4 separate regions of the Homo sapiens genome follow, and regions 1, 3 and 4 are each linked to region 2. The links come from fine-mapping of genetic effects on gene expression. A gene starts in region 2. Each other region holds a variant in brackets. All regions are shown on one strand. Distances are from middle to middle.

Evidence for each region. PIP is the estimated chance that this variant, and not a neighbour inherited with it, causes the effect.
Region 1: its variant is fine-mapped to the expression of TRAK1 in whole blood (INTERVAL, PIP above 0.99).
Region 3: its variant is fine-mapped to the expression of TRAK1 in tibial artery (GTEx, PIP above 0.99). The same link has a PIP of 0.9 or more in aorta, atrial appendage, fibroblasts and subcutaneous fat.
Region 4: its variant is fine-mapped to the expression of TRAK1 in whole blood (TOPMed, PIP above 0.99).

The regions. Positions count from the first base shown.
Region 1 is chr3:41,781,807-41,789,464 of GRCh38, reverse strand. All of the region lies in intron 21 of ULK4 (unc-51 like kinase 4), which reads left to right. Among named protein-coding and RNA genes, the nearest start is that of ULK4, 180 kb to the left of the region's middle. The variant TG/G (reference allele first, on the strand shown) is at 2,866.
Region 2 is chr3:42,085,872-42,093,512 of GRCh38, reverse strand. It overlaps TRAK1 (trafficking kinesin protein 1), which reads right to left and starts at 2,156. Exons shown (of 16, transcript NM_001042646.3): 1 at 1,953-2,156. The coding sequence starts at 2,043.
Region 3 is chr3:42,058,432-42,066,089 of GRCh38, reverse strand. It overlaps a transcript of TRAK1 not described here. Among named protein-coding and RNA genes, the nearest start is that of TRAK1, 29 kb to the left of the region's middle. RefSeq lists a silencer at 4,088-4,307. The variant A/C (reference allele first, on the strand shown) is at 4,537.
Region 4 is chr3:42,008,496-42,016,153 of GRCh38, reverse strand. LOC107986077 (a long non-coding RNA gene) reads left to right here and starts at 2,585. Exons shown (of 2, transcript XR_001740668.2): 1 at 2,585-2,730; 2 at 3,192-4,136. It also overlaps a transcript of TRAK1 not described here. RefSeq lists enhancers at 818-1,319, 1,713-1,852, 2,833-2,902 and silencers at 2,043-2,112, 2,173-2,332, 2,373-2,442, 2,533-2,652. The variant A/G (reference allele first, on the strand shown) is at 3,929.

The DNA of each region.
Region 1 (7,658 bases), 300 kb after region 2:
TCTTTAAATGGCTTCTGCCTACTTGTCCCATTTCAGTAATGTTAAACTGAAAATGTCTCAGTCCTTCCTATATGCTGGCATTTCTTATGCCTCACCAACTCCAGCTTCCATCTCTTTCTCCCATGGCCTTTGCCTTTTTTAGGGGGAGGAGTCCCTTTATATTTTTCTGCTTGCTCTGACCTATTTTTATTCCTTTCCTTGTAATACTCTGCCAGTTGAAATTATAGAGCCCCCATTCTGTTTTTAACCTATCCTCTTCTAGTCCTTTATATGCCTTTATTATATATACAGTAGAGTTTGTAAGTACTAAATTCGTATCACAGAACTGTATAGTGATAAACAGGGCTCTCTAGTAGCCTTTCTCAAAGTGTCTTCTCTAGTCCCTTGTTAAAGAGTGATCCCTGGACCAGCAGCATTGACATCACCTAGAAGCTTGTTGGAAATGCAGACTTTTAGGCCCCATGCAGACCTTCTGAATCAGAATCTACATTTTAGTGAGATCTCTAGGTGATTTGTTTGAACTTTATGCTTTGAGAAGCTTTGCTTGAGAATATTAGTGTTTGATGATGTGTTAACAGGTAAAAAATAAAGTAGGCCTGGCTATATATAAATTTGGAAAGCAATGATTCAAACTTAGAAATATTTTCAGTTGTACAATTTTTCCCAGTTTTTAATATGCTAATGTGTATTGTGATTGTGAATTCTCATGAGGGGAAAGTAGTATGCAGCATTATTTCAACCAGTCATTTTCTTTTTCTTTTTTTCTTTTTTTTTTGAGATGGAGGCTCGCTCTGTCGCCCAGGCTGGAGTGCAGTGGTGTGATCTCAGCTCACTGCAAGCTCCGCCTCCTGGGTTCACGCTGTTCTCTTGCCTCAGCCTCCTGAGTAGCTGGGACTATAGGTACCCGCCACCACGCCTGGCTAATTTTTTGTTTTTGTATTTTTAGTAGAGACGGGGTTTCACCGTGTTAGCCAGGATGGTCTCGATCTCCTGAACTTGTGATCCGCCCTCCTTGGCCTCCCAAAGTGCTGGGATTACAGGTCTTTTTTTCTATAAGAGGTAGAGAGGTGTACCTTTCAATTCAGAGTTTTGCAAAACATGATGAAGGTAACACTGCTTAGAAGTGTGGAATGGAACCACTTAAATACACTGTTTACCATGCTTCTTCTGCTTTAAATGAAACACATTAAATTTTGGTTTTTATAATGAAACTTAAAATGTCAGTAACTATTATGAATAACTCTCAGATTTGCATAGTAAACTTAATCTTTGGAAGTCCAAATAGAGGTAAACCACTTCTTGTCTTTAATTATTCTGATTTAGATTCTGCTAAGAAATTTGTGCCTCAGAGACAGTATTTTTTTCTAACAAATCTATGTGTCTAGTTTTTGCTATTAAATTTTCACTCATTAAATGTTCTTATTGTTATATTAGAAAAAGTAATACTTGAATAATTTTACCAGGTAATCCGTGGTTAGAGAGGCTGAGAGTTTTAGAAGAATTTGTGTGTGTGTGTGTTTTACCTTCAGCACAGGCATGGATTGATTAAGTTTCAAATATAGTATTTCACAAAAGCAGTAAAATAGGTTGTTATGTTAATATAATTTTAATTATTTATCATATATAACTACTATTCCACATGTCTTAAGGAAATGAGCAATTGTATGGCGTGATAAACAGTCTTTTACTTTTGATTAGTATTGGTACATTAAAAAAGTTTTTATTGTGGTAGATAACACATAACATAGAACTTATAATTTTAACCATTTTGAAGTGTACAGTTCAGTAGTGTTAAATATGTTCACATTGTTGTGAGACAGATCTCCAGAACCTTTTTATCCTGCAAAACTGAAAGTCTATACACATAAAACATTTTGGGTGGTGGTGGATGTTATTTGAATCTTCTATTTTAGAGTCCCCTCTGACACTGAATTGGCAGGGGGAAGAAGGGTGCTGCATTGATGTTGCTGGGTTGGGATGGAAGCACAGATCCCCAGTGGACTGCTTTTGCCACCTCAGGAGGTAGAAGAGCTCCTCATTACTGCTGGGTGAGAGTGCGAGGTCAGGCTTTCCACCAGGACTCCTCTGATGCTACCCCGGCTGCTGAGGGGAAGGGATCCTCATCATTGCCTCCACTGATGCTGGTGGAGTGGAATGGATGCCTCATCACTGGGGAAACATTGTACAGCATGGTGGAGGACTTTCTGTCGTTGGGTTGGGATGAAAGCCCCAGCTCTCTGCTTGGTCTTTTGTGACTCCACTCTGGCAGGGGATAATGCTGGGGCACCTTGCCATGGTCACATGAGGTTGGAAGTCTAGGCTCCCTACTTGCTCTTTGCTGGTGGGGTTGGGGTGTGGTTTTTCCATGGTGCTTGGCTGAAGTAGAGTAGCTATTTTCTAAAAATTTTCTGTCTTGCCAGGCTGCCCCTCTCTTGGTCCTTTGGTTTGAGAGAGCTGTTTTTTCTTGTGTATTTGTGTATGTATACCTGTTGGTGCTTCTAGACCCTTGGATTTTTCAGCACCCAATCTGGGATATAAGAGGCAAAAAGACAACTCAGTGAATGCATTGCTGTGTTGATCCTCAGGTTTCAAGGCCCCTAGCTGGTCTTCTGCCTTCTTTCCATGTATCTGTCATCTTATATTTGTTTTATATATATTGTCCAGGGTTTTTGGCTGTACTTAGTAGTAGGAATAGAGAGAAGTGCATCTTCTCTCTCTTGTCTTCTAGTTTTTTAAATGTATCTGTGACACCTCAATAATGTACAATGAATTTCTATTTAGAGTTCAAGATTCTATTTTAATAAAAAGATTAACAATTAAAAAATTTACAATTTATTGAACATTTGCTTTTTTTTTTTTTTTTTT[TG/G]GAGACAGGATCTCACTCTGGTTGCCCAGACTGGAGTGCAGTGGTGTGATCTTGGCTCATTGTAGCCTTGGCCTTCTGGGCTCAGGTGACCACCTCAGCCTCCTGAGTAGCTGGGACTACTGGCGTGCACCGCCATGTCTGGCTAATTTTTGTATTTTTTTGTAGAGATGGGGTCTTGCTATGTTGCCCAGGCTGGTCTTGAACTCCTGGATTCAGGTGATCCCCCGTCGCAGCCTCCCAAGGTGCTGGGATTACAGGTGTGAGCCACCATTCCTGGCCCTGAATGTTTACTTTGGGCCAAATGATTTTCAACTCTGAATCTTTCACAGATGAGACAGTGTGTTGAGTAATTTTGTCGAGTTCTTGGAGTGTATAAGTGCTAGATATAAGTGCTTATGCCCTAACAGGAGGGGCTGATAATAAACAAAACGCAGTAATTTGGGATAGTTTTAGTGTCCTGAAGAACATAGAACAGGGTATGTGATAGAGTGACTGTTAGGGGCAGTGTGCAGGTGGAGTGGAGCCACACATTATTAGCCTAGGTTAGGTTGGAGAACAGTCAGGGAAGGCCTCTCTGAGAAGGTGCATTCTGGCCTTGGATGATAAGAAAGAGCTTGGAATGTGAAGATCTAGGGGAAGAACTTTGTGGTTCAGCCTTCCTGAAGTGTGAGAGATCTTAGGGAGATGTGGGAAGAGAAAGAAGGTCATCAGAGTTGGAGCACAGCCAGCAGGGAGGAAGGGACATGGAAGAACCTGGGCAGTTGGAAGAAGACCCAGCTCAGGTAGGGTCATGATATTGGCCTTCCTAAGGGGTTTTAGTGCAATGATCATTGTCTTATTGTTACTTAAAGAAAAGTGAGTGTCGTCTATACCTGTCTATACATGTGTGTTTGAGGTGCAGATTTACCAGCCTTATTGTTGATAGGTTAGAATGAGTGGAAGAGGAAGAGACCCAGGAGCAAATACAAAATTGCTTCCTGTTGAACAGGGAGAAGGAATTCTACGTGTTGTTTTTTGGCGGGATTGACGCTCATATATTATGGTCTTTTACAATGGAAACCCAGTCTCCAAAAGAGTTCCATTCCCTTCCTTTTAAATAAAAGAAATTACTGTTTGCTACAGAAAACTTAGAAGACTCTAAAGAAGAAAACAAAATTAGCTGGAATCTCACTACCCAGACATAATTTTTGTTAACATGTTGGTTTATCTCTTTCTAGTTTTCTGTCTGCGTCTATGCATTTTATGCACACATTTACCAAGTTAAAATAAAATTGTGTTGATTTTTCTTGCTGTTTTCATGAGTATTTTACTATGTCATTAAATGTTCCTCAGGGATATTAAAAGAAACTTGTTATATGATTTATTTTGTGATGCACCAATAATTTAACTCTTCCTCCACTATTGAACTGTTTGGCTCCTGTTTTTTGGTTGCTACTCATCATGATATGATGAACACCCTGTTACATACATCTTTGTGTTCACCTCTAATAGATTACTCAAGTGTTATACACATTTGTAAGGTGCTGCCTTAATGTTGCTTGATTGTTCTTTGGAAAGGTAGATTATGTGGGTACCATTTATTTGTAATTTATCCAGCAGTCGTTTAAGCCACATGCTGTATTTTTCTTATAATAAAACCTAGAGTTTAACATTATTTAATTATCAGTATACTTCATGTTTTCATAGTTATTTGTAGTTTGTAATTAATCTCTGATTCTCCATTTGAAATTTGTAACTGTAGCCAGGTTTTCATCTTAAACTAACAAGGTGGTAGAGTCTATTCTCTTCTGAATCATAGACATTTTCTTGAGTGGATGTTTATGTATTGAAGGAACTTGTTCAGTTCACATTGTCATCTGCATTAGCTACTTGGGTGTCAGTGTCCTTAGATGGTTATTATTCAGCAGCTATTTGGATGAGTAGCCATTTGCATCATGAGTGCTTGATTTATTTTGTGTCATCATCTTTAAAATGATTTGCTTGCCCATAGATGTCCTTAATAGAAGAAGATTCCTTTATCCAAAACAACTGTTAGTTCCATACACTGTGATGTTAAAAGTGAACAATCACAACCACAATGAGAGGGGACTTTTGATTAAAAATCAAAGTAAAAAACCACCTTTTTCCATTTTTCCCCCTAAACACTTAATAGGAAACTTTTTTTTTGAGACGGAGTTTTGCTTGATTTCCAGGCTGGAGTGCAATAGAGTGATCTCGGCTCACCGCAACCTCCGCCTCCTGGGTTCAAGCGATTCTCCTGCCTCAGGCTCCCGAGTAGCTGGGATTACAGGCATGTGTCACCACGCCTGGCTAATTTTGTGTTTTTAGTAGAGATGGGGTTTCTCCATGTTGGTCAGCCTGGCCTCAAACTCCCAACCTCAGATGATCTACCTGCCTCGGCCTCCCAAAGTGCTGGGATTGTAGGTGTGAGCCACCACGCCTGGCCAATAGGAAACTTTTTGAACTATTGGCAGATGGTACTTTATATGTGATTCTTGAATCACTGCTAGATGTAGGGAATTGATTACCTTTTTATAATTCAGATGCTTGAATGACTGACCAAGAAGCTTCTGGAAGACCTGATCAAGTAGAAGAAAAAATCTTGTAGGTTAGGTATGAGTTTATTTACTAATCCTTGTACTCCAAACTCTTTTATTTTTCTAGTTTACTTTGTAGTCATTTTTCTGGTACTTCCAAGCTGTTAATGTTTCCTGCAAATATTTCATTTTCAAGGCTGGAAAAGTCTGAGAGTTCATGGATGTTTCCTGCTGTTTATTGGGGAGAAATATATTGGATGAGCTCATTACAATTTTCTATAATTACAATACCTAAAAACTTAAAGTAGTCAATGCTAATTTACTTTAATTGTTATCAGACTGTATAGTGACAAATTTTAGGATTCATATGAGTAGTATAGAGAATTCAAGCTGGGCACAGTGGTATGCACCTGTAGCCCCTGTTGCTTGGGAGGCTGTGGCTAGAGGATTGCATGAACCTAAGAGTTCAAGGCCTGCCTGGACAACATGATAAGACCCCATCTCTCCCTCTCTTTTTTTTTTTTTTGAGACAGAGTCTTGGTCTGTTGCCTAGGCTGGAGCGTAGTGGCATGATCTCGGCTCACTGCAACCTTCGCCTCCTGGTTCAAGCAATTCTTATGTCTCAGCCTCCCAAGTAGCTGGGGTTATAGGCATGAGCCACTGCACCTAGCTAATTTTTGTATTTTTAATAGAGACAGAGTTTTGCCATGTTGACCAGACTGGTCTCGAACTCCTGGCCTCAAGCAGTCGGCCCTCCCCAGCCTCCCAAAGTGCTGGGATTACAGATGTGAGCCACTGCTCTGGCTAAGACTCCGTCTCTATTTAAATAAAAAAAGAAAATTCAGAATATGTGGAATCAGAACACCAAAGGCCAAAGTTAAACATTTACCTCTCTGAGGTAATCTCTGTAAAAAATTTGATATATATCCTTTCAAATTCGTACTTGCTATGCATATATATACATATACACATGTACGCGTTGACATATTCCCTCTTCTCTGCTGTCATGCTATTAGTCTTTTTTTTTTTTTTGGTAGAAATTGGACCAACCCAACTCTATGTTCTTTGCTGGCTCATATTTCTCCTATTCAGTGATGTGTTACGAATGTGTGTTTAAGTCAATTTATGCAACTCTTCAATATCATTTTAAAAGGTTATGATATACGATCATTTAAAGGTATTGCAATTCATTCCTACAGTCCTCTTTTGCACATTTAATAATTTCCATTGATTTGCCAGGGAGAACATTCTTATGGCTAAATCCTTTTGTATGGACATCCTTAGTTATTCCCTTAAGATAAACTTTTAAATAAAGTTACTAAATTAGTCTCATTTCTTAAAAAGTTCTTTTTTGGTAGTTTATATGTAACACTGTAGTTTTATATGTACTTGCAAATAGCTATAGTGCCAGTAAAAAATGTGATAAAATTAAACTCTTTCACATATGCCAAAAATACTTTGATTTAACGCTTCATTAAGTTCCTGATTACAGTCTCTATATCTTTTGATTTACCTTTCTATCTTTAAAATTTTCAGCCGAGATACTTAGAGGTCACATAGTAAACTAAGGTTTTCTTTTTTTAATCATCTCCGTCTTTTTAAATTTGGTGAGTCACAGTAAGTTATTTTTGGGTTGTTGAAAGCTGTGTCTCTGTTCTAAATTTGAGCGCAGAAATCATGCCACTTACAAAATAATGCTTTGTCTTCTGACATCAGAGTGTCTGGTAGAAGGTGACTGCTCTTGGAACTTAAAAAATCTAAACAGGACAAGAACAGAATCTGGAAAATATTTCTGTTTCTGATAATATGGCTGAGTAGGTACTCTGCAAACCCTCTCTCATAAAATAGGCATGCCAGATAGTCCTTGCAAAGACATACTTGAACTTGCCCAAAAAAAAAAAAAAATTCAGAATCGCTATGAAGATGAAGTGAAAATCAGAAAGGTTACTGTGAGAATAATGGCGAGGCAGCCCCAGTTATCAAGGGATGTGTGCATGTGTTCAATAAAAAGTTTCAAACCTAAAAAAAAGTTGAGAAAAATAATATAATTGCCCAACATAAACACATCATCAACAATTTTTCATTCATGGCCAAATTTTGTTTGTATGTTTGTTTGTTTTTTTAGGTGGAATTTTGCTGTGGTTGCCCAGGCTGGAGTGCAGTGGCATGATCTCGGCTCACTGCAACCTCCGCCTCCCGGGTTCAAGTGATTCTCCTGCCTCAGCCTCCCGAGTAGCTGGGATTACAGGTGCCTG
Region 2 (7,641 bases):
ACATGGAAAAAAACTTACAAATGACATTTTAAATAAATTTCACAATTTATGTCAAAAACCTTGTGATAAATATTCTACCTACTCACCTAGTCATAAGGGAACTGAAGGGTAGGAAGATTAGCTGGTGGCCCCCAAATCATTTATAGCATATTTAAAAGGCAGAGGTGAATGTTTCTGTGGTTTTGCAAAGATCAAATGCTCTCTCTAGAAATTAGCATAACAGGGCCCCTTTCTGCATTCCATCTGCAAAAACAAATCAACTGTGAAATAAAGGAGATTCCACTAAGAGAAGGAGAAAAAAAAAAACTTCTAAATTACACATTTAGAAAATATGTGTTATTCCCTACATTGTAATTTACATTTTCTCACTCTGTTGTAAAAGGGATATATATTTCACTGTCCATTCTTTTCTGTTTCATTAATATAGCCAAATAAAAGACCCATTTAGATTATAAATTTTCAATAGAAAACACAAATAAAAATTATACTAGAGAGAAATTGACAAGGCCTTAAATTTAATTAATAAGATGTGTAAGAATTCCATAATGTTTTATTTGAGCATGTTTTCAGAGGATAAGACATCAAGTTTTATGGCTTAAATCAGTGATAGAAAAGGAAAAGATCCTGGGTCAGGCATGGTGGCTCACGCCTGTAATCCCAGCACTTTGGGAGGCCGAGGCAGGGGGATCACTTGAGCCCAGGAATTCAAAACCAGCCTGGGCAATACAGTGAGTCACGAAATAACATAACATAACATAACATAACATAACATAACATAACATAACATAACATAACATAACACAACACAACACAACACAACACAACACAACAAAATAAAAGGAACAAATTCTAAGCCATGGCCCTTTGATGAAGAGTCCTCCCAGGCAGGGCTACTCCTGTTAGCAGATTTTTCCTAGGCAATTCTCACTCGGTTTACAGCTTCTCCTTTACACCCTGGCCCACCTCTGTGCTCTGAGGGCAGGACCAGTCCTCTCTCTGACCCCAGGAATTAACATAAACCCCAGTAAAAACCTGGCCCTGGGTGCACGCTGCTTCAACACACAAAAATAAGTACGATTGCCTCAGTAAGATGCATGTTTGAAGTGTCTTTAGGCTTATTCAATAAGATTTACATGTTTTAAAGCCTAAAACTGACTGGAATGGAACAGGAGCTCACTTCTCTCAGGAATTAACTGTTTTCTGGCCCAGACAGCTCTCAGGAAGCAGCGTGTAGACAGGACAGAAACCAGATGGGTCATCAACCACTGGACTCTGACCAGCTTAGAGGAAGTGAGAGGTGTCAGCCCCACAGCAAGAGACACAAGCCACAGCAGATCTGATTAGCAAGCCCTCCATCACTGGGGTGTGGATCCGAGTCCCAGGCCCAAGCATTTAGTAAAGGACAAAAAAGAAAGGGAGGGTGGAAGAGAGGGAAACGGGAGAGAGGGAGGGAGACAGTCTAACTCTGTCCTTCACCTTCTGAAAAACTCCTTGCTGACCCAAGATACCAGGTTAGCATCTAAGAAATCAGGATAAAGACAAGACATAGGATTAGAGAAATCAGAGCTGGAGAGGCGGAGGAGGCCTTAGAAACCCTGTCCACCCACTGCAGAGAACTGTGAAGGGAAAGGGAGTGGCAGTGCAGGGGGTCTGGGCTCAACTCAGCCCTGTGCTCATGCCCTGCAAGTGTCACTTGCACCTACTGAGCCTGGGCAAGGGGACAAGGGGACCTGGGAACGGGAGATGGGGGGGTGGTGAGGGCAGTAGTTGTGTCTCTGAAGTCCCTTTGCTCTGCCTATCATTCAACATGGCAATTTCTCTACCACATGACCATGAACAACCTCCCAAGCAGCACGGAGCAAGAGAGAGACAGCTTCTCCTGTGGTCTTTTCTCCTTTCCGACCACACCACAAAGAAAACAGACAGCAGACAGACCTGGCAAACAAACTTACCACAGGCGTTTGTCCGAATGAGCTTGCCGTGGCAGAGTCCTGGCAGAGGCTGAGCCCTGACGGGCTGCCCGAATTGAAAAACCAATGCCATGTGCAGACATAAACTCCAAAGGCACTTCAGAGAACAGAGAGAGCCTCCATGAGAGCTCAGCCCCGGCAGTACCTCGCACAGCCACCCTCCCGTGCCTTCCTCAGCAGTTTTCTGAGTTTGCTTGTTAGGGCAAATCCTAAGATTGTGAGCTGTCCTGGAAGCACAATGGGTTATGTAACTCCAGGCAGCCTGGGAACCCTATCAGCTCATCTTGTTAAGCCACCCCAAACAGAAAATGACGCACCCAAAAATGTGATACCTCTAGGTTGGGGGAAGGGGAGTAGCAAGGAGAACGGGGCTTTGTGATGGGCATTCGGTTTTGCCTAAAAATTAAAGTGGAACAAAAAGTCTGCTGTTCATCTCAGGGCTTGCTGGGAACTGGGGGAGGAGTGAATTTATCAAGGGCTGAATGCCAAGCAGTGTCCTGAGACTGCACTTGGCAAAGCCCTGGGAGGCCACAGATGCATTCTTGGGGATAGTCTAGGTCTCTCGGAGAACTTTTTTCCATTTAATGTCTTCCTTTCAATGACTGCCTAATAAAACTTTAATCCGAGCATGTTCTCCATCACCTGACAGCCCATCCCTTAAACGCATAAGAGTGTCTGTGTTTACTCTCCTGTTTACCAAGCCAGTGCTAAACACAACAGCACCGAGCTGTTTCTCAGCTTTCCTCTGGTCCCAACAAAGAACCCCCAAGTCACCACATCCTATAGGGTTTGAAGTTTCAGCACTACATTCTGCCACTTCTTTGTTGTGTTTTTTGTTGTTGCTGTTTCGTTTTGTTTTTTTGAGAGAGTCTCACTCTGTCGCCAAGGCTAGAGTACAGTAGCACTGTGTCAGCTCACTGCAACCTCCATCTCCTAGGTTCAAGCAATTCTGCCTCAGCCTCCCAAGTAGCTGAGATTACAGGCGTCCGTCACCATGCCTGGCTAGTTTTTATATTTTTAGTAGAGACGGGGTTTCACCATGTTGGCCAGGCTGGTCTTGAACTCCTGACCTCAGGTGATCTGCCCGCCTCGGCCTCCCAAAGTGCTGGGATCATAGGCGTGAGCCACCACGCCCAGCTGTGAAGTTTCAGCGGTACATTCTGCCATTTCTTTACCCTCCACTGTCACATTCAAAGAAAGTGAAAGCACTTTAACAGGCTGGATGCTTCCTGGATTTCACTGGTACAGATGCCACTAGAATCCCAAGGATCAATTCATGTGTTTGGACAAATGTAGATGCGGTTGGGTCATCGCCTCCTCCACAAAGCCCTCGTGGTCTTCTCCTGTCCTTTCCCCTCCAAGGTTCAGCCTGGCACCCTCCTTGGTGCCCTACTGTGCTGTGCTTATCATTGTGCTAACCTCGGTGTACAGCCAATTTCTACTCACTCATCTGTCTCCCCAACTAGACTAAATTCTTAGGCAGCAAAGAACCCTTGCCCTGGGGTCCTACAGACCTGGATGCAACTCCTGCCACTCAGGAGTTTCACCAAGGTGCTGAACCTTTCGAGATTTAGACTCTTCACTTACACAAAGAGGATAATAGTACTCACTGCACAAATTGACACAATTGATACACCCAACAAATGTTCACTGAGCGCTGGCCACAGGCAGGCACTACGTTAGTCACTGGATTCAGGAGTGTGCAAAGTAGACACAGAGTTTGCCCTCCGCGACTTTAGTCTACTGCAAGTTTGGGAGACAAAACACAAATACAGTAGTTCAGCAGATGGTTAAGTTTGGGGGAAAAAATTAAACAGGAAAGGGAGATGGGGAAAGGTGAGGCAGATCACTCTGTATTGGGGGGGGGTCACAAAAAGCATCAAATAAAATGTCACTTGGAGAAGGAAGAGGGGGTCATAAGGATATCTGGAGTTAAGGCAATCCAAAGACCCTGAGGCTGGATGTGCCTGGTGAGTTCAAGGTTAAGTGAGGCGGCCAGTGTACCTGGAGCACGGAGGGCACAGAGGAGGCAGGTCAGCGGGGCAAAGAGGGATTCCTGTCATTCAGCCCCTTCCTTACAGGTCTCTATAGAAGGGGAGCTCACTGGAAGTTTGGAGGAGAGTTAAACCATCTGATTGTATTAAAAGCCAACTCTCATGGTTGAGCGGAGAAAGAATTTTAGGGAGGCAAGGGTAGCAGTAAGAGGCCCCACTGGAAGGCCAGTGCGGTCATCCAGGTGTGAGATGGGGGTGGCTGGGACACAGTAAATGCTGGGTAGATTCTGAACATACTCTGAAGATACAGCCAACAGAATTCTTGACAAACTGGGGTATGAATCGCAGAAAGGCAGAATCACAAATGCCTCCAAGGTTCTTGGCCTGAGCAACTAGAATAATGAAAGCACCATTTACAAGGATGGGGAAAACCCTAAGAAAAGCAGGTGCAGGTGGAAACCAGGAGCTCATTTTTGGTCATTTGAGTTTGACATGCCTGTTAGACATCTAAGTGGAAACTCATGTGGAGTCAGTCTGAGACATCTGGCCTTAAGGAGGAAGGGCCAGGCTGAGTACAGAAACCACCGAGTGGCCAGTACAGAAGGCGATTTTAAAACCTGTGTGCTGGGTGAGATCAAGTGCTGCACAGGTGCACACATAAGAGCAAAGAGGCGGAAAGGCTGGGCCCCGGGCCCTTCAACGTTCCCAGGCTTGGGAGAAGAAGAAACGCAGCCACTGAGGCAGAAGAACAGGGAGAGTGTGGGGACCCAGAAGCCAAGTAAAGACTGTACTTCCAGGACACAGGACTTGGCAACAGTGTGAACTACCACTGAAAAGTGAAGTAAGGTGAAGGCAGAGGACAGACCCCTGGACTGAACCAGGCTGTCAGTGTGGTGGGGCATGAGCCTGCCTGCAGTGGACTCCAGAGAGAACAAAAGAAAAACTAGAGTAAGCAAACAGAAGAGCAGAGACACTGGCCTGCGGGAAACACGGGACTGAGAAGGATTCTATTTCCGAAGAGGGAGATCATAGCATGTTTCTGCACTAATAAGAAAGACCCAAGTGCAAGGGGAAAAGAATGATGCAGTAGAGAAAAGGGAGATGTTGGAACTGTGTCCTTCAGGGGGCAGGCAAGTGGGAGAGGGACTCAGTCACAAGCGGAGGACAACACATGTGGGCCACTTAACAAAAAGGGAGAGGAGGTGTGTGGGGGCCTAGCACAGCAGCTAGGCACCAGGCTGGGACCCCCGGCTTTCTCTGTGCCTTTCTGTATCCAGGAAACCCCTGACACACAGGAGGTCCTCAAGGCTTAACTGGTAACACAGAACCAAGAGAAGCTACTGGAAGCCAACTTGCATATATTAAGCTGTCATCAGGCATTACTTCAAACAGACAAACAAAAGCAAACACTGCAGACAAAAATGAGAAATTAAGCAAACTTCTATATGAATGCAACTGGATTGAGCTATAATTTTGCCACTTGCTGCTGTTATGCACACCATCCTACACCATTTCCATTGAGAGCCCTCTCTTGTGCTAGCTTCAAGCACTTGTCTCAATGCTTCCTTGGGGAAAATAAAAAAGCAATAGCTCTACTACTAAGTGCCCGCACAGATGTTAGGTGATTACCACCTGGGACACTGAGAGTTATGACTGACACAGGTATCTGTAAAAATCCATGTCTGTGCAAATCCTGATGGTGTACAAAGGGCACTCCATGTAGTTTTCTGTTTTTGCATCCCACAATGACAGTGCATGTTATTCCCACTACACCTGTCTTATATCTGAAGAAGCTGAGTGCAAAGAGAGAAGGAAGGGTTCAATACACTGAGTGCCTGTGATGGGCCATGCTTGCTGCTCAGGTTTGGATGTTACCATCTTTAACCTTCATGACAATTTAGTGAAATGCTGTCTACCTCTCAGTCAGGATAGTAGGTCAACAACTGACACAAGTTACAAAATGGTTCACTGGCAGAACAGGTTCTGGATTGGAGGTCTCACAATCCGAAAGCTCAGAGTCTTTTGCACTTTGGTGGTTCCTCTCCACATACCTCCCCAAGACCCTCCCATGTGGCTGCATTCCTTCCCTAGTCCTCAGTGACTGAAACCTCCCTCCCTTCCTCCCTGGCAGGGAAAGGGCCCCCATACCAGTAATGGTGCAGGCATCCCGGTACCCTCTGTAGCTGGGAGCATCTTCCACAGCCTCGCTTATGTAGTGTTCCTCAGGGATGCCCAGGCTGCAGGCTAGGACTGCATGGTTGCATGCCTCCGAAGGGGGCACGGAGTTGGCCAAAGTGTCGTCGTGCAGAGCTGTGGCGTCCAGCTTGGCAGGTTTCACGGGGAGGTGCCCACTGCCATCGGGGGCCCCACTGCCAGAGTCTGGGGCAGTTGGGCAGATGGCCCCCGGTAGTTCTGGTGCACCAGCAGGGGCTCCTTATAGGGAATCTATGGGACAATTGAAAGAGAGGGGCACAGTTAGAGTCTATCGATAAACCTGGACAATCTTTAGAAAATGAGGGCCCCGGGATGACGTGCGTTCAGACTGCGAATTCTGAAACGCGTTTCTCTCAAGTCAAGGCATCTCCAATCACATTGCTTAGTTTCAATAAAATAACTGCAGCAAAGTTCCATTCAACTAATCAATATTGACCAAAATGTGGAGCACATGGCTTCATTTGCTTACTGAAACCTGCCTTGAAGCAGCTCTAAGCAAAGAAACACACTGGAGCACAGCTAAAACCTGTATTCCTACAGGATTTATACACACAAAGAGAGGTAACATTTTTATTTGTATATGGAATTACATAAGATATGTTTCTCTTAAACTCTTTCAACCACAATAACTTCTCAACTCTCTAAGAACTTTAAGGTATGCCCCTACCTTAAGCTACAGTGAGAAATTAGGGGACTCCTTTAAGAACCTGATGAAAATGGCTGGACACGGTGACTCACTCCTGTAATCCCAGCACCTTGAGAGGCCGAGGTGGGCGGCTCATTTGAGGTCAGGAGTTCAAGACCAGCCTGGCCAATATGGTGAAACCCCATCTCCACTAAAAATACACAAACAAAAAAAAAATTAGTCAGGTATGGTAGCGGGCACCTGTAATCCCAGTTACTCAGGAGGTTGAGGCAGGAGAATTGCTTGAACCGGGGAGGCAGAGGTTGCAGTGAGCTGAGATCATGCCACTGGGCTCCAGTCTGGGCAACAGAGTGAGACTCATCTCAAAAAAAAAAAAAGAAAGAAAAAGAAGAATCTGATGAAAACTACAGACTCACCCTCATTTAAAATCTGACTAGGATGAAAGATAACTTCTGAGAAAAGATGGCATGTGACATAGGCTGCTGAACACTCCGCTCTGCGCCGGCAACAGCACACCTACATGCAGGCGATTTCCCACACATTTCAGGAGTGCCGCTGCCTCAACTCCCAGCGCACCTGCACACACATCACATGTGTACACACAAAACGTCAAACAGGAGCTTAATGAAAAAGGAAACCTACAAAACATTCCTCAGCACAAGAGATCTCAAAGTGTGGTCTGAGAATCCCTGGAGTTTCCTGAGACTAGTTCAGAGGGTCTACAAAGTCAGACACTCTCGCTCTCACTCTTTCATGGATGTACAGTGGAATTTTCCAGAGACTACATTATGTGTGATGATGCCACTGCTCTGAAAGC
Region 3 (7,658 bases), 27 kb after region 2:
CCTCCCAAAATGCTGGGATCACAGGCGTGAGCCACTGGACCCAGCCTCAACTAAAACTTTAATAGGGGTTTGTTCTGTTGGAAGGGTAGAAAAGGCATTTTTGGCACAAGGAATAAGAAAACCCTTTAAAAGCTCAACATGGAGTTAGGATTCAAGAGATAGCCAGGTGTGGTGGCTCAAGCCTATAATCCCAGCACTTTGGGAGGTTGAGGCGAGTGGATCACTTGAGCCCAGGAGTTGGAGACCAGCCTGGGAAACATAGTGGAACACCATTTCTATAAAAAAATTAAGAATGAGACAGGTGTGGTGGTACACGCCTATAGTCCCAGATACTTGGGAGGCTGAGGTGAGAGGATAGCTTGGGCCCAGGAGGTCGAGGCTGTAGTGAGTCATGATGGCACTACTGCACTCCAGCCTGCACAACAAAATGAGACCCTGTTTCTTAAAAAATAAATAAAACTATTCCAGTACTTCCACAATTCTGTGGCCCAATTATGTTGGGTAAAGGCTATTCAGTTTGATATTGTCTGATTAATATCAAACTGAATAGCCTTTACGCAACATAATCACAAGCTGAGTACCCCAAATCTGAAAATTCAAAACCCAAAATGCTCCAAAATCCAAAACTTTTGAGCACTGGCATGGTGTTGAAAGGAAATACTCATTGAAGTATTTTGGATTTCAGAATTTCAAACCTGGGATGTTCAATCCGCAAGTATAATGCAAATATTCTTAATTCCAGAAGAATCTGAAATCTAAAACACTTCTGGTTCCAAGCATTTTGGCAAAGGGATACTCAATCTGTATTTTTATTTATCTTATTTTATTTATTTATTTGAGATGGGAGTCTCGCTCTGTGGCCCAGGATGGAGTGCGGTGGCACAATCTTGGCTCACTGCAACCTCCACCTTCCAGGTTCAAACAGTTCTCGTGCCTCAGACTCCAGAGTAGCTGGGGTTACAGGTGTGTGCATCCATGCCCAGCTAATTTTTGTTTGTTTGTTTGTTTGTTTTGAGACAGAGTCTTGCTCTGTCACCCAGGCTGGAGTGCAGTGGCGCGACCTCAGCTCACTGTAAGCTCCACCTCCCGGATTCACACCATTCTCCTGCCTCAGCCTCCCGCCATTCTCCTGCCTGAACCTCCTGCGTAGCTAGGACTATAGGCACCTGCTACCATGCCTGGCTAATTTTTTGTTATTTTTAGTAGAGACAGGGTTTCACCGTGTCAGCCAGGATGGTCTTGATCTCCTGACCTCGTGATCTGCCCGCCTCGGCCTCCCAAAGTGCTGGGATTACAGGTGTGAGCCACCATGCCTGGCATGTATTTTTTAAGTATAGCTACTTAACCCATTAAAAATATACCCTTACTATTCTATGGTAAAATTAATTCACAAATCATTATGAGAAAAGCTTTTCATATCAGGAAGTCTAGCACAAATATTTTAACTTCAGTATTTTAGGAAACAGTCTATAGTCTGCTTAAAGTATTTATTATGTATTTGTATTTCCATAATAAGTTCATAATGAAGCAACATTCATTCTATGCTATTAGTCTAGGATCACATGGTAGCTTCCTAGATTCTAGGTGATAATATTTTAGAGTTCTTAGAAATTACATTTGGGTAACTCAGACAGCAAGTTCAAAAATTTATTTTATTTCTTAATCTTCCAACATTGACATCAGACTGTAAGAGAATTCTTTTTAAAGGTTTTTTTTTTTAATTTGTATCCCTCTATTTATTTATTCATTTGAGACCGGGTTATAAGACTGGCTAATTTTTGTATTTTTGGTAGAGACAGGGTCTTGCTACGTTGCCCAGGCTGGTCTCAAACCCCTGGGCTCAAGGGATCCACCCACCTAGGCTTGAAATGTGCTGGGATTACAGGCTTGAGCCACAGCGCCCGCCTGGCTGCGAGCATTCGCATTTTTGTGATGTATCATTACCACCCAATACAGAAGGCATTTGTGATCTCCCTCAGGTCAGATAGTAATAAGGGCTGGGCATGTAAAATGGGTTCCCTCCCATCTCTAGTGCTCTGAAAGGGATGACTGGGCCTCTCTCTCACGTGGATATAATTTCCACATGGCCACCAGGGCTTCTCACATGCTGGCTGGATCCCAAGAAGGGGTGTTCAAAGTATGAGACAGAAATTACAGATCTCTTTAGACTCAATTTTAAAAGTTACACAGTGTCACTTCTACCGCAAACTATTGGTCAAAATACATCACCGGGCCAACGCAGATTCAAGGGGAAAGGTTACAGACTCTACATCTGGATGGGAGTATGGTAAGAACTTTCAGCCCACCACAGGGCCAGAGAGCAGACAATAAGGCACAGCTGGGCTGCCCCGGCACATATGCTTTTTTCACTGTGTGGCTCCCACCACTTTTTTTTTTTTTTTTGGAGACAGAGTCTCACTCTGTCACCAAGGCTGGAATGCAGTGGCACAATCTCAGCTCACTGCAACCTCTGTCTCCCAGGCTCAAGCAATCATCCCACCTCAGCCTCCCAAGGAGACGGGGCTACAGGCGTGTCCCACCAGGCCTGGCTAGTTTTTGTAATTTTTGTAGAGACAGGGTTTTGCCATGTTGTCTAGGCTGGTCTCAAACTCCTGATCTCAACTGATTTGCCCGCCTCAGCCTCCCAAAGTGCTGGGATTACAGGCACAAGCCACCACACCCAGCCCCACCTTTACAAAAGAGCAAGAACTGCATCACAAAGGCATTCCTGGTTGGGCAGGGGCAGTGGGGAATGTACTGACAGACAAAACCCGGATGCTCCTTCAGCAATGGCTTAGGGCAGGGCTTGGCAAACTTTTCCCGCGAAGCGGAAAATAATAACTATTTCAGGCCTTGAGGGCAATACAGTCTCCGTTGCAATTCCGCAGTTGTAGCTGGAAGGCAGTCAGAAAATATGGAAATGAATGGGTGTGGCTGTATTCCAATAAAACTTTATTTATAACAGCAGGCGGTGGGATGGATTTGACCCATGGTCTGTGAGAATAAGCACTGGATTTGGTACTGGAAAACCAGGCCTGGAATTCTGACTTTACTACTCACTACCAGTGTGACCTTGTTTGAGTTTCTTAAAATTTCTGAAGCACGTCCTCCATATCTCAAAAACAGGGATAATGTCATCCATCTCCTAAGGTGGCTCTGGGGAGTGAGGTAATACAGGTGAAAGTGCAGTGCACATCCCCTCATAAGACAAACACGCCTTCACTGCAGTGCAGAGCCTGGAAAACAGCTCAAGGGGCTGTAGGGAAGTCCCACCAGGCAGGACACAAGGGAGTGTCAGGCACTGTTTTCCAACAAAGTGAAGACTTCACTGATGAGAATTATATTAGGCAGCAGCAGCCTAAATAGTCTTTGTTAAAGACCTATCCTTGTTTTGCTTTTTCTCAACAGCATAATACTTTGTTTTAAGGCATACAGATAGCGCTGACACAACCTATTTCACAAACCCTATTTCACACAGAGTAGCATGCATGGTCAGTGAAAAGGAAAATAAAAACCACCAACATGAAGAAGCCTCAGAGGTGCCAGGACTCAAATACAAAGTTTTTCAGAGGGGTAGCAGTATAGTCATGCTGTATTTAAGCTGGTTTTGTAGATTCTGAAATGTTAAAAAATAGTCTCCAAGACAAGCATATTTTTTAATGCTAAAAGTATAACTGGAATTATTAAACATGTGAATGCAAACTTGATTTTTTTTGAAATTGGCCCTAGTAGGAAAAAAAATATTCAAAATTAAGACCTATCCTTAGCCAAAGGAATCAAAAGCACTGAAGCATTTTGTTTGCACCTCCGCTAATACGGCACTCCTTTATAATACCAGTAGTTCACCAAGAGATTGAGAGTTTCACAAGAGTAACAGGCAGCACTGTACTCCTGCTTTTGGAAAATTCCACTTCATCCACAGGAAAGTGGACATGTTAGAAGGTGAGTGACTTGTCCATTGTCAAAATCTTGTCTGCTGTAGGATTCCTGCCACACATATGAGCAGGATCTCTCTCAGCCATGACTCCTCTTGCAATTTCAATGTCCCCTTCTCCCAAATGGGCAGCCTTAGCCAGAAGCAGCTGTCCCAGAGCCTCCACCCGAGACAGCTGCATTCTGGAGGGATGGCGTCAGCAATAGCCTAGAAGGGCGTGGTTTCCCTCCTGAGCCCCAGAGTGAGTGCCAATGGCTGTCATCATTTGAATTGAATATCCGTTTCCAAAATAACCTGGACCATTTCCAAGGCAAAGTACTACTGAATAAAGCTCAAATCCATGCAGATGGGTAGATGGATGGGCTTGTTGCTCCTGATTCATTAGTTAATAAACTGGTATATATTGTTGGTGTTCTGATTCATAAATTAGATGGGAAAGAAGTGAGATGACTTAGCATAACACAAGCCAAAGTGAACATTCCCAAATTCTCTTGTATTTGTACTTGCACGGAATGGAATTCTCACATGATGGCTGGGATTTCTATATTAAGTGTCTCAGGCCAATCTTCTACTAAATAAAGTTCAAGTGGCACTGGGTTCAC[A/C]TGATATTCAGAGCTCTGTAGCAGCTGATTGTTTTCCCCGTATCTCCTGCTTTGGAACTTCAGCTTCAAAGTAGCTCCTTGCCTGCTTTTGCCATGGCCAGGGTCCACTCTGTATCCAGGAGGTGTAAATATGATGAGCTATGAAAAGGCTGACAGACAACAGGGCTGCCTCCCTGGCACTGTGTGTGTGTGTGTGGGTGTGCGTGGGGGGGTGGGGTGTGCATGGGGGGGTGTGCGTGGGGGAGGTGTGCATGGGGGGGTGCGTGTGTGGGTGGGTGTGTGCATGCACGCATGCACAGATGTAGACACACACCCATCACTTGAAAACTTAAGGTCAATGGTTACGTAAGATGTTAACATTAGAGGAAGCTGGGTCAAGGGTGTATGGGAACTCTGCACACTTTTTGTAACTTTTCTATAAATCTAAAATTATACCATAACAAAGAACTTTTTAAAATGCACTTTTAAGTCAGCTTCCAGGCCTGAAGCATACCATTTAGGTTTTCACAGGGTCCTTCAGCATAAGTCATTAAGTCCCTTGGAGGGTCAGTTTATTTAGCCCTAAATGAACCTGATGAGATCCCCAAAAAACTGCAAAACAAACAAACAACAACAACAAAAAAGGCCGGGCGCGGTGGCTCATGCCTGTAATCCCAGCATTTTAGGCGGCCAAGGTGAGCAGATCAACTGAGGTCAGGAGTTCGAGACCAGCCTGGCCAACATGGCGAAACTCCGTTTCTACTAAAAATATAAAAAAAATCAGCCAGGAGTGGTGGCGGGCACATGCAATCCCAGTTACTCAGGAGGCTGAGGCAGGAGAATGACTTGAACCAGGAAGGCGGAGGTTGCAGTGCGTAGAGATCGCACCACTGCACTCCAGCCTGGACAACAAGAGCAAAACTCCGTCTCAAAAAAAAAAAAAAAAAAAGCAGCCAAAAATGACCTGACAAACAGGTGTGATATTAATATGACAACATTCACATTAAGGCTTGTTCCCAATGACAGACTGAGACTATAAACCAGTGAGACTGCTAAGGGACCACGCCTGGAAAAAGAGGCACTCCTCTACCGTTACATTACTCTCCTGTCCCACAGTTTCAAAGCTGCCCCGTCTCTCCTCCCTGCTCCTCAGAACCCAGAGGTCTTGGTATCTGCTATTCCCTCTACCTGGAATCTCCCTTTACCACCCGCCCTCACCCACCACCACCCCCCACCCCCCACCGTGGTGCTGTAGCCATCTCTGTCTTTTTTCATATCTTAACTGACATCTCAACCCCTCGGCATCCCCTTCCTTTATTTTTCTTCTTAGAAGCTATTCCTTCTGATACACTACAATATACTCATTTGTTTATTTCCCCTCTCTCCCAAATAGAATGTAAGCTCCATGTGGATGGAGCTTTTGTGTGTTTTGTTCACTGCTAACAGGATTTCTTGAAAACCTTCTATGGGCTTTCCCCTGTGAGTCTTATTGACATGGTTCTCTGGAATCATTGGGAAAAAAACAGAATGTTTTTTAAAAAGAAAAGACATTTCTTATGCAGGGGGAAAGAAAGAAGTGATTAATATCAAACAAGCACTTTCAGAATTGCTATGTACCTGTAACACTGTCCTCCATGCTTTATTGTATCATTGTCCACACTAAGTATATTACTTTATATAATCTCACTCATTCCTCAATGATCTGTGAAGTCAAAGGAGCAGGCGTTATTATGCCCACTGCACAGAGGAAGAAACTGAAGTACCACAAGCAAACGGTGAAGCCAGAACAAGAATCTAAGTTACCCTATATCCTGCCTAGAAGAGCCTCCATCACAGCTAGCTGTCTCTCTGTAGAAGAATAAAAATACTCTGAAATAAGTCACTTTTAAATTTTTTTCTGGAAAATAAAAAGCTTTCTGAGTTGGATGATTTTTTTAATAGAACACAAATATGAAGGAAAACTATACATGACCTGTCACGTATATTCTTGTAGGAAAATGCACAGAAGTGTCCACGAGGAAGAAAGGAAATCCCCGAGGCCTGCTGATAGGCACAGGGAGAAACAGGCCACAGTTCTCTTTTAGCCACTGTTTTGAAAATTTTATTAGAATTCATAAAGACTATCAAAAAGATAACTGATGAAGACAAGTCATTATCTTTCTAAAATATGGTTAACTCAGGTCCTATCCTGGAGTGGAGAGCAGGGATGGGAATCTCAAAATCTGTATACACACAGAAGCACACTTGACAGGGCCCTGAAGTCCCAGCCTGGGCAACACAAAGAGGCCTCGTCTCTAATAAAAATTTTTTAAAATTAGCCAGACATAGTGGTGCATGCCTATAGTCCCAGCTACTCAGGAAGCTGAGGGGGAGATTCACTTGAGCCTGGGAGGTTGAGGCTACGGCAAGCCATGATCGCACCACTGCACTCCAGCCTGGGCAACAGAACAAGACCCTGTCTCAAAAGGAAAAAAAAAAAGTTCCCTGAAGTCCAAAGCCTACTTATATCATACGTATGTATATTTGTGTGTATACATATACATACAAATATATACACGCATGCATACACACCTGGATTTATTTTAAATTCAGTAAATTAGCACTTTATCTTTAAAAAAATTGCAGCACAGAGCAGATGGTAAAGAGTAAATCTCTTAAGATACACATTTTTTCACATTTCAATATCTCTAAAATTGAATTTTGTCTTATAGCCAATCGTCCTTTACTATGCTTACTTTGTAGCATTTTTTGCTTTCTTAGAGGTACATAAAGCAATGGCGTATCTTACGATCTGTTGTGTGTGGGGGTGGGAGCTCAGCGCAACAATTCAAATGGGCCACCAAACAATGGGCAAGGCCCACAATGGACATTAAAGGGAGATCCCTGCATCAGCCAGGAGGTAGGACAGGTTGACTTTAAAGGTTCCCTCCAGGCCAGGCATGGTGGCTCATGCCTGTAATCCCAGCACTTTGAGAGGCCGAGGCAGGCAGATCGTCCAAGGTCAGGTGTTCAAGACCAGACCAGCCAACATGGTGAAACCTCGTCTCTACCAAAAATACATTAAAAAATAAGCTGGGCGTTGTGGCGGGGGCGCCTGTAATCCCAGCTACTGGGGAGGCTGAGGCAGGAGAATTGCTTGAACC
Region 4 (7,658 bases), 77 kb after region 2:
TTAAGGTGTTGTTAGTTTGGAAAGTGAAAGTTTAAGAACTCCATTCAATGTGAATAGTGCTCTATTATTTTTGAAAGCCCTTTTATTTTTATGTTTTTTGTTTTTGTTTTTGTTTTTGAGATGGGGTCTTGCTCTGTCGCCCTGGCTGAAGTGCAGTGGCGGGATCTTGGCTCAATGAAACCTCTGCCTCCCGGATTCAAGCTATTCTCCTGACTCACCCTCCTTAGTAGCTGGGATTACAGGTGCCCATCATCATGCCCAGCTAATTTTTGTATTTTTAGTAGAGACGGGGTTTCACCATGTTGGCCAGGCTGGTCTCGAACTCCTGACCTTAAGTGATCCACCTGCCTCAGCCTCCCAAAATGCTGGGAATACACGCACAAGTCACCATGCCCGGCCCAAAGCTCTTTTATATTACCTGATTTGACCCTCATAATAAACCTATAAAACAATAATTACTATTATATGCTTTATTATCCCTGTTGGGGCTCAAAAAGCTTACCAAATTACAAACCCAATCATGTTGGAAGGAGACCTGAAAACGCTCCCATGTCATTCAGTCAAACTTTTACAGACACCTCCATTTAAAACATTGTCTCCCAGAGAGGGGAGAGCAGGACAGAGAGGTTAAGTAAGGTCACACAGCCAATAGAGAGGAGTTGGAATTTCAGTCCAGGTTTCCCACTCCAAGACCACAGAGAAGGAGAAGCAACACAGCCAGAGTGGAGACACCCTCAAGCGAGCGCTGGGGATGGGAAACTGGTCCCTGGGGCATCAAACAGGAAACGGCTGGTGCTGGGGCCAAGCTGAAACCCAACTGTTGCCAAACTCGCAGCCCTGAGACAAGGGCTTTAAACCGATTCAGCATCCCCCAGAGCCGGGCTCAGCTTTCCAGCTGGCTTAGGCTACACTGGGCTGGGAACCTCTGTGACAAAGCTGAGGTCCAAGATCAAAGAGCAACCGAGTATGACCATTCCAAACCGAGAGACAGAGGGGAAGGCGCCATCTGTCACTCCAGGTCCAACTCTCCAAACCTACCAGTCAAGCTCCCAGCCTGTTGTCCCTTCACTCAATCTGGGGAGACCCTCCCCAGTGCAGACTGGCTCCAGGGCTAATCAGAGCTTAGTCTGAGCACCTTCCTCTTCGCTGCTCTTGTAGTTGGAAATTGGAAAGGACCCTGGAACTAGACCGTTTCCCTATGGTAACCTCCACTCTCCTTCCAGATAAACAAAAGACCCTCCAGAAAAGGTTACCAGTCCCGAATACACACTCACAGACAGTATTGACAACGTTTACACTTTTGAAGCAAATAAAGTTCCAGTGAAGCATATCAGAAAAAAAAAAAAATCAGCGGTCCAACGACGAATACTCTGAAGGCTCTCAAAGCGGACGCTAATTTCAGTGTCTGAACAAGTGCAGCCACGGGTTCTAAAACAGGCAAGCTTAAAGCGGAAGGGGCACCCAGCACCAGCCTCAAGAGCAGGCCGACTTTTAACATCTTTCCTGAAACACAACTTTACAAAAGAAGAAACGATACAGTTCATTACATTTGTTTTTACCTGCAAGAGCTTGACCTTGGAGACTAGAAAAGAACTTTAAAAATCAGGTCAAGAAAGTGACAAAGTAAACTTGTTAACTCTCAAGGATGCAAAGGAGGGCTCTAAAGGCTCTCTGCTCTCTGACACGCTCAGATGATGTCATTTTCATCAAGTTTTGCGGGTGAGTGGGAATCGGGGTGCTGCCCGCGCTCAGCTCCAGGCTCTTTGAAGGTCGCCTCACTGTCACCTCGGAGTGCCGGAGCGCGGAATCCAGGCCACGCGGCGTGGCCGACACGATGCCCTAGGGGCACTTTTCCGGGCTCCGAGGGCCTCCTGCAGGTGCGGCCGGTGCATTAGGAGGGCTGTCCCCGCAGGGTCCCGGCGCCCGGCCTCTCACGCCGCCACTATCTCACGCGGACACTCCCAGAACACCCGTGTCCTTCCCCAGCCCCTGGGCCCGAGGCGCAGGCGGCGCGGGTGAGCGGACCCCTGGCTTACCCGCAAGAGGTGCACGGAGCGCAACCCGGCAGCAGGCGCGGTGCCGGGGGGCCTCGGTGGGGGCTTCCTCCGCGTCGTTCTCGGCCCGGCCCCGGCCGCCCGGCGGCTTCGGTTCCCTCCGCTGCAGCCGGCCGGGCGGCACGGGGGCACTCGCGGGGGCTCCGCTCTGGCGCCGCCGCCTCCTGCTGCCCGCCTGCCGCTCTGGCGCTCCTGGGCTCGGAGTCCGGGGTTCCGAGACGCGGGGGTCGTCGGGGCGTTCGAGACTCTCGGGGACGCTAAGGCTGCGCTCCGGCTCTCCCGCGCGCGGCCCCACTCTGGGGGACGCCTCGCTTGAGGCGCGCGGGCGTCAAGGGCTCGGGGCGCGCGGGGGCGGCGGCCGGGTGGGCCCCGGGGCGGCGGGCGGGGGCGCTGCTGCGGACGCGGGCACTGTTGCGGGCGCCGCCGCGCGGCCTCTCGCCATGGCTCCCCCGCGAGCGGGCGGCTTGCACCTCCCCTCCGCGCTGCCGTCACCGCCCGACGCGCGCCGAGCCCTCCCCCTTCCCAGCCCCGCCCGCCGCCCCGCGCCGCCACCTGCGGGCCGCCCTCCAGGATGCCCGCCGGCCACGTCCTAGTCGCCTGGAGCCGCGCCCCGCCTTCCTCGCCCGCGGCTGCCCCTGCACTTTTACCCACGCCGTGGGGCACAGAGAAGTATCCGGTAAAGACCTGGATCCGGAAAAGCTGATCACATCCCTCCCCGAGCGCTTATTTACTTCTAGCACTTCTCGGGGTCCTTCCAGAGTCAGTCTAAGAGAAGGATGGGACCCCCGCGGCCCGGGGCGCTGATTGTCGTGAACACAGTGGAAGTCCAGGCGTTCTGTTCCTGCAGGGCGGGCTGTCTCCTAGCAAAGCCGCCCTTAGGCTTAAATGGAGGGAGGATGGAGCCGGGGACGGGGGGAAGGCTGGAGGGGATGGAACTGGCTGTTGGACTAAGATGCCACCAAAGGGTGACAGGCAGGGGGCTGGCGGACAGCAGAGAGGGGATCAGGAACCGATCCAGGAAGTAAGAGCTCACAGGCCACTCTATTATGCAAATCACTTGTGGACGGTTTAACAGGGAACAACCCACATGATCTCATTTCCAGTTGAGGCTACTGAGTCTACTTCTTTTCAACCCAGGGGTCATAGAGGACATTGGGAGGACTTGAAGAAGACTCAGACCAGAACCAAAGGTGTAAGGAAACTAAACCCTGCAAAACCTGATTTCTCATACTGGCATAGACTTGACTTGAAGAGATCATCAAGTGTATAGTGAAGATTGGCTCAGGCAAGAATCATCCATGAATGCTTACTCTAGGGGGCTGTTACTGGCTGGCAGATATTTGTCTGGGTTGATGTGTCTCCCCATAGATGGTTTAGACCTGTTAGTAGCAAAAGCGGAAATAGTAACTATACAAAGAGGCAGGCAGACAGCATCTTAACCAGGTGATCAAAATTTACATCACCAATGAGAGCAGATGGATATCATGTCCACATCAGCTATGCAGTATTCCTGGGGACAATGCATAACCTGAATCATGATAGTGAAACATCGGACAAACCCAAAATGAGGAACATCTATTAAAAAGAGGAAGGGTCTGTATTATTCAAAAATGTCAAGGTCATTAAAATCAAAAGAAAGCTTGGGAAATGTTCCAGATTAAAGGGTGCAAAAGAGTCAGGGCAGCTAAATGCCATGCCTGATCCTAGACTGCATCCTGTGCTAGAGGAGGGGAAATACATCACGGACATTCCAGCTGACAAAATCAGAATCCATGTAAGAGATTAAAGTATTGGATCAATGTTAAATGTACTGATGTTGATAACTTCCACTGTAATTATGTACAAGAATATCTAATTCTTGGGAAATACACACT[A/G]AAGTATCTTGAAAGGGTAAAGGTCATAATGTATGCAGCTTACCTTCAAATGATTCAGGGGAAAAAAAATCTTGATAGGAAAAAATGATAAAGCCAAGTGGGCAATAAAGGTAAGGTGCATATTATCAGTGAATCAGCATATAGAGTGTACTTGAACATTTCTGTAAGTTTGAACTTATTTCCAAATAAAAAGATTTGGAAAAATCCATCAAGTTGGGGAATGAAGTAAGGTGGAAAGAAAGCAGGTATGATATAAAAGGGCAACACAAGGGATCCTTGTGAATTTGGAACTGTTAAACATCTTGAGTATGGTAGTACAGGTGATAAAATTATCTAGAACTTAATATACACACAAATGAGTACAAGTAAAACTGGGAAAATCTGAATAAGATAGGTAAATTGTATCAATGTCAATATCCTAGTTATGATATCATATTAAGGTTTTGCAAATGTTGTCATTGGGGGAAACTAGGCCAAATATATATATGTGTGTGTGTGTGTGTATTTTTTTTTTCCCAAGACGGAGTTTTGCTCTTGTTGCCCAGCCTGGAGTGCAATGGCACAATCTCAGTTCACTGCAACCTCCACCTCCCAGGTTCAGGGAATTCTCCTGCCTCAGCCTCCTGAGTAGCTGGGATTACAGGCGTGCACCACCATGCCTGGCTAATTTTTGCATTTTTAGTAGGGATGGGGTTTCACCATGTTGGTCAGGCTGGTCTCGAGCTCCTGACCTCAGGTGATCCACCTGCCCCAGCCTCCCAAAGTGCTGGGATTACAGGCATGAGCCACCGCACCTGGCCCAAATATATTATTTCTTAGAAATGAATGTGAATCTACCATTATCTCAATGCAATTTTTAATTACAAAAAAAATCATTTTTAATTACAAAAAAACTGTATGTAAATGGGCATGCCCATCAGGGAGCATGCCAGAGCAGATATGCTGGAGCTCTCATAGTGGATCTAGAATAGACATGGTGCTGTTACCAACAGTGAAGGCTTTCAAGAAAAAAAAAAAATTAGACTATTTGAAGTATAACTGACCGATCAGATTCCTTCCAGTTCTGTAATTTAACAATCCTAGAGCTGGGGGTTCTTTGAGATCATCTAGTCCAACCTACTCATTTTCTGGAAACTGTGGGCAGAAAAGTAGTGTGTGTCCACAGGAGCATCAAATTAGCGGTAGACCCGTTAACTACTGCTTGTCTGCCAAATATGTTCTACTTTCTTTACACCTTTACCAGCTGTCTGTCACTCCCTATATCTATGAGATTCAGTTAAGGCTGGTAGAAAATTTTGAAGTCATTCATTCTTTGGAGTCCCTGATTTGTTCTGTAGTGCCAGATGACAGGCATGTGGATTCTGCCCCTGAGGAGTAGGGACCAGTTTTCCTCTCCTACTCTCAGCTTGGAGGAAGCAGATGGCAGGCGGGGCCCCAGTGACAGCCCCAGTTCTGGGCCTGACTGAGCTGATGAACTACTTGGAGCAGCTGCTGACCTGCTGCTGCTGGAAGCCAGTGGAACAGGAACCTGGGAGGGAAGCAGAATGGATACAAGAAAGGAAAACAGTAATTGCCCTGGTAAGTCCTCCCTTCATCCAGCATGAGGCAGAAGTAGCTGCAACAGAGGCAACTGGCTTCCCTTGAGCCACAGATAGCCACTGTATTCTTTCCTTTTGTTGAATCAAATCGAAATTAATCTATGTTTACTTGCATTTGCCAGGCCCTCGTTAGTAACTGTGGGAAAATACAAAATAGAATATCTGATCCCTACCCATTAGGAACCCAGAATGCATCCAGGGACCCAAGGTGGAAATGTTGAAAGTGACCCAACAAAAGCAATTAAAAGGCTAGCTATATTAGCTGGGGTTCCCCCCAAAAGCAACATTGGAGAAGGACTCATGGGCAGATACTTTCTTCTGGAAAATGATCCCGTAGGATATGGGTAGAAAAAGAAATTGGGACCAGAAAGAATGAAACAGGAAAGAAAGAAAGCCTATTGAAGGATATAAAATTTCTGTAAACAACTGGAGCTTAGTCCCACTGAGGCCCCCTGAGGAACTGCGCAGAATGTAAGACAGAGGAGGAAATATTTAGCCACCAGTTCCTATCTCCCATTGGCCAACTTGATGCTGAGTTCAGGAGTGGTGGCTCACACCTGTAATCTCAGCATTTTGGGAGGCCAAGGTGGGTGGATCACTTGAGCCTCAGAGTTCAAGGCCAGCCTAAGCAACATAGCAAGACCCCATCTCTACAAAAGAAAAATTTAAAAATTGGCTATGGAAGTATGAAGGTATATGCCTGTAGTTCCAGTTACTCAAGAGGCTGAAGCAGGAGGATTGCATGAACCCCTGAACTCAAGACTGCAGTGAACTATAACTGAACGATGGCACTGCAGCCTGAGCAACAGAGCAAAACTCTTGTCTCAAAAAAAAAAAAAAAAGTAGATGCTGAGCAAAAAAAGCTAACTAAGATACAACATGGGACATATATAAAAGATGCCTGACACCAGCTTTATTCATTGCTGCAGTCCCAGCACCAACAACAGTGCCTGACTCATAGATGCCCCGTCAATAGATACAGAAAGAATGTCTGGGTGCGGTGGCTCATGCCTGTAATCCCAGCATTTTGGGAGGCCAAGGCAGGCAGATCACTTGAGGAGGATCACTTCAACTTCTGTTGAAGACCAGCCTGGCCAACAGGGTGAAACCCCGTTTCTACTAAAAATACAAAATTAGCTGGCATGGTGGTGCATGTCTGTAATCCCAGCTACTTGGGAGGCTGAGGCAGGAGAATCATTTGAACCCAGGAGGCAGAGGTTGCAGTGAGCAGAGATCATGCAGTTGCACTCCAGCCTGGGCGACAGAACGAGACTCTGTCTCAGAAAAAAAAGAAAAACAAAAAGAAAAAAAAAAAAGGGCGGGACGAGGTGGCTCACACCTGTAATCCTAGCACTGTGGGAGTCCGAGTCGGGCAGATCACCTAAGGTCCGGAGTTCCAGACCGACCTGGTTAACATGGTGAAACCCCGTCTCTACTAAAAATACAAAACAAATTAGCTGGGAGTGGTGGCACATGCCTGTAGTTCCAGCTACTCGGGAGGCCAAGGCAGGAAAAGCTCTTGAACCAGGGAGACGGAGGTTGCAATGAGTCAAGATCGCACCACTGCACTCCAGCCTGGGCGACAGAGCGAGACTCCATCTCAAAAAAAAAAAAAAGAATGAATGAAATACTGTAAAAAGTAGATCCATAAGTCATATATTGACAGTTTTGCGTGTGTGTCTATTTTTTTTGGTTTTTGTTTTTATTTTTTTTAGAGACGAGGTCTTGCTGTGTTGCTCAGGCTGGTCTCCAACTCCTGAGCTCAAGCAATTCTCCCACCTGAGATTCCCAAAGCGCTGGGATTACAGGAGTGCACCGCCATGCCCAGCCTGTGTCTGTTGGACTAGGCTAGGGTGATAGAGTAGTGGGTAAAACAGATGCATTCCTCAGCCTGGGCAAAATAGGGAGGCCCTGTCTCTACAAAAAAATCAAAAAACTAGTCAGGGATAGTGACATGTGCCTGTGGTCCCAGCTACTTTGGAGCCTGAGGTGGGAGGACTGCTTGATCCCAGGAGGTCTAGGCTGCAGTGAGCCATGATTGTGCCACTGCATTCCAGCCTGGGTGACAGAAGGATACCCAGTGTCAAAAAAGAAAAAAAAAACGGGTATATTCCTAGCCCTAATGGACCTTT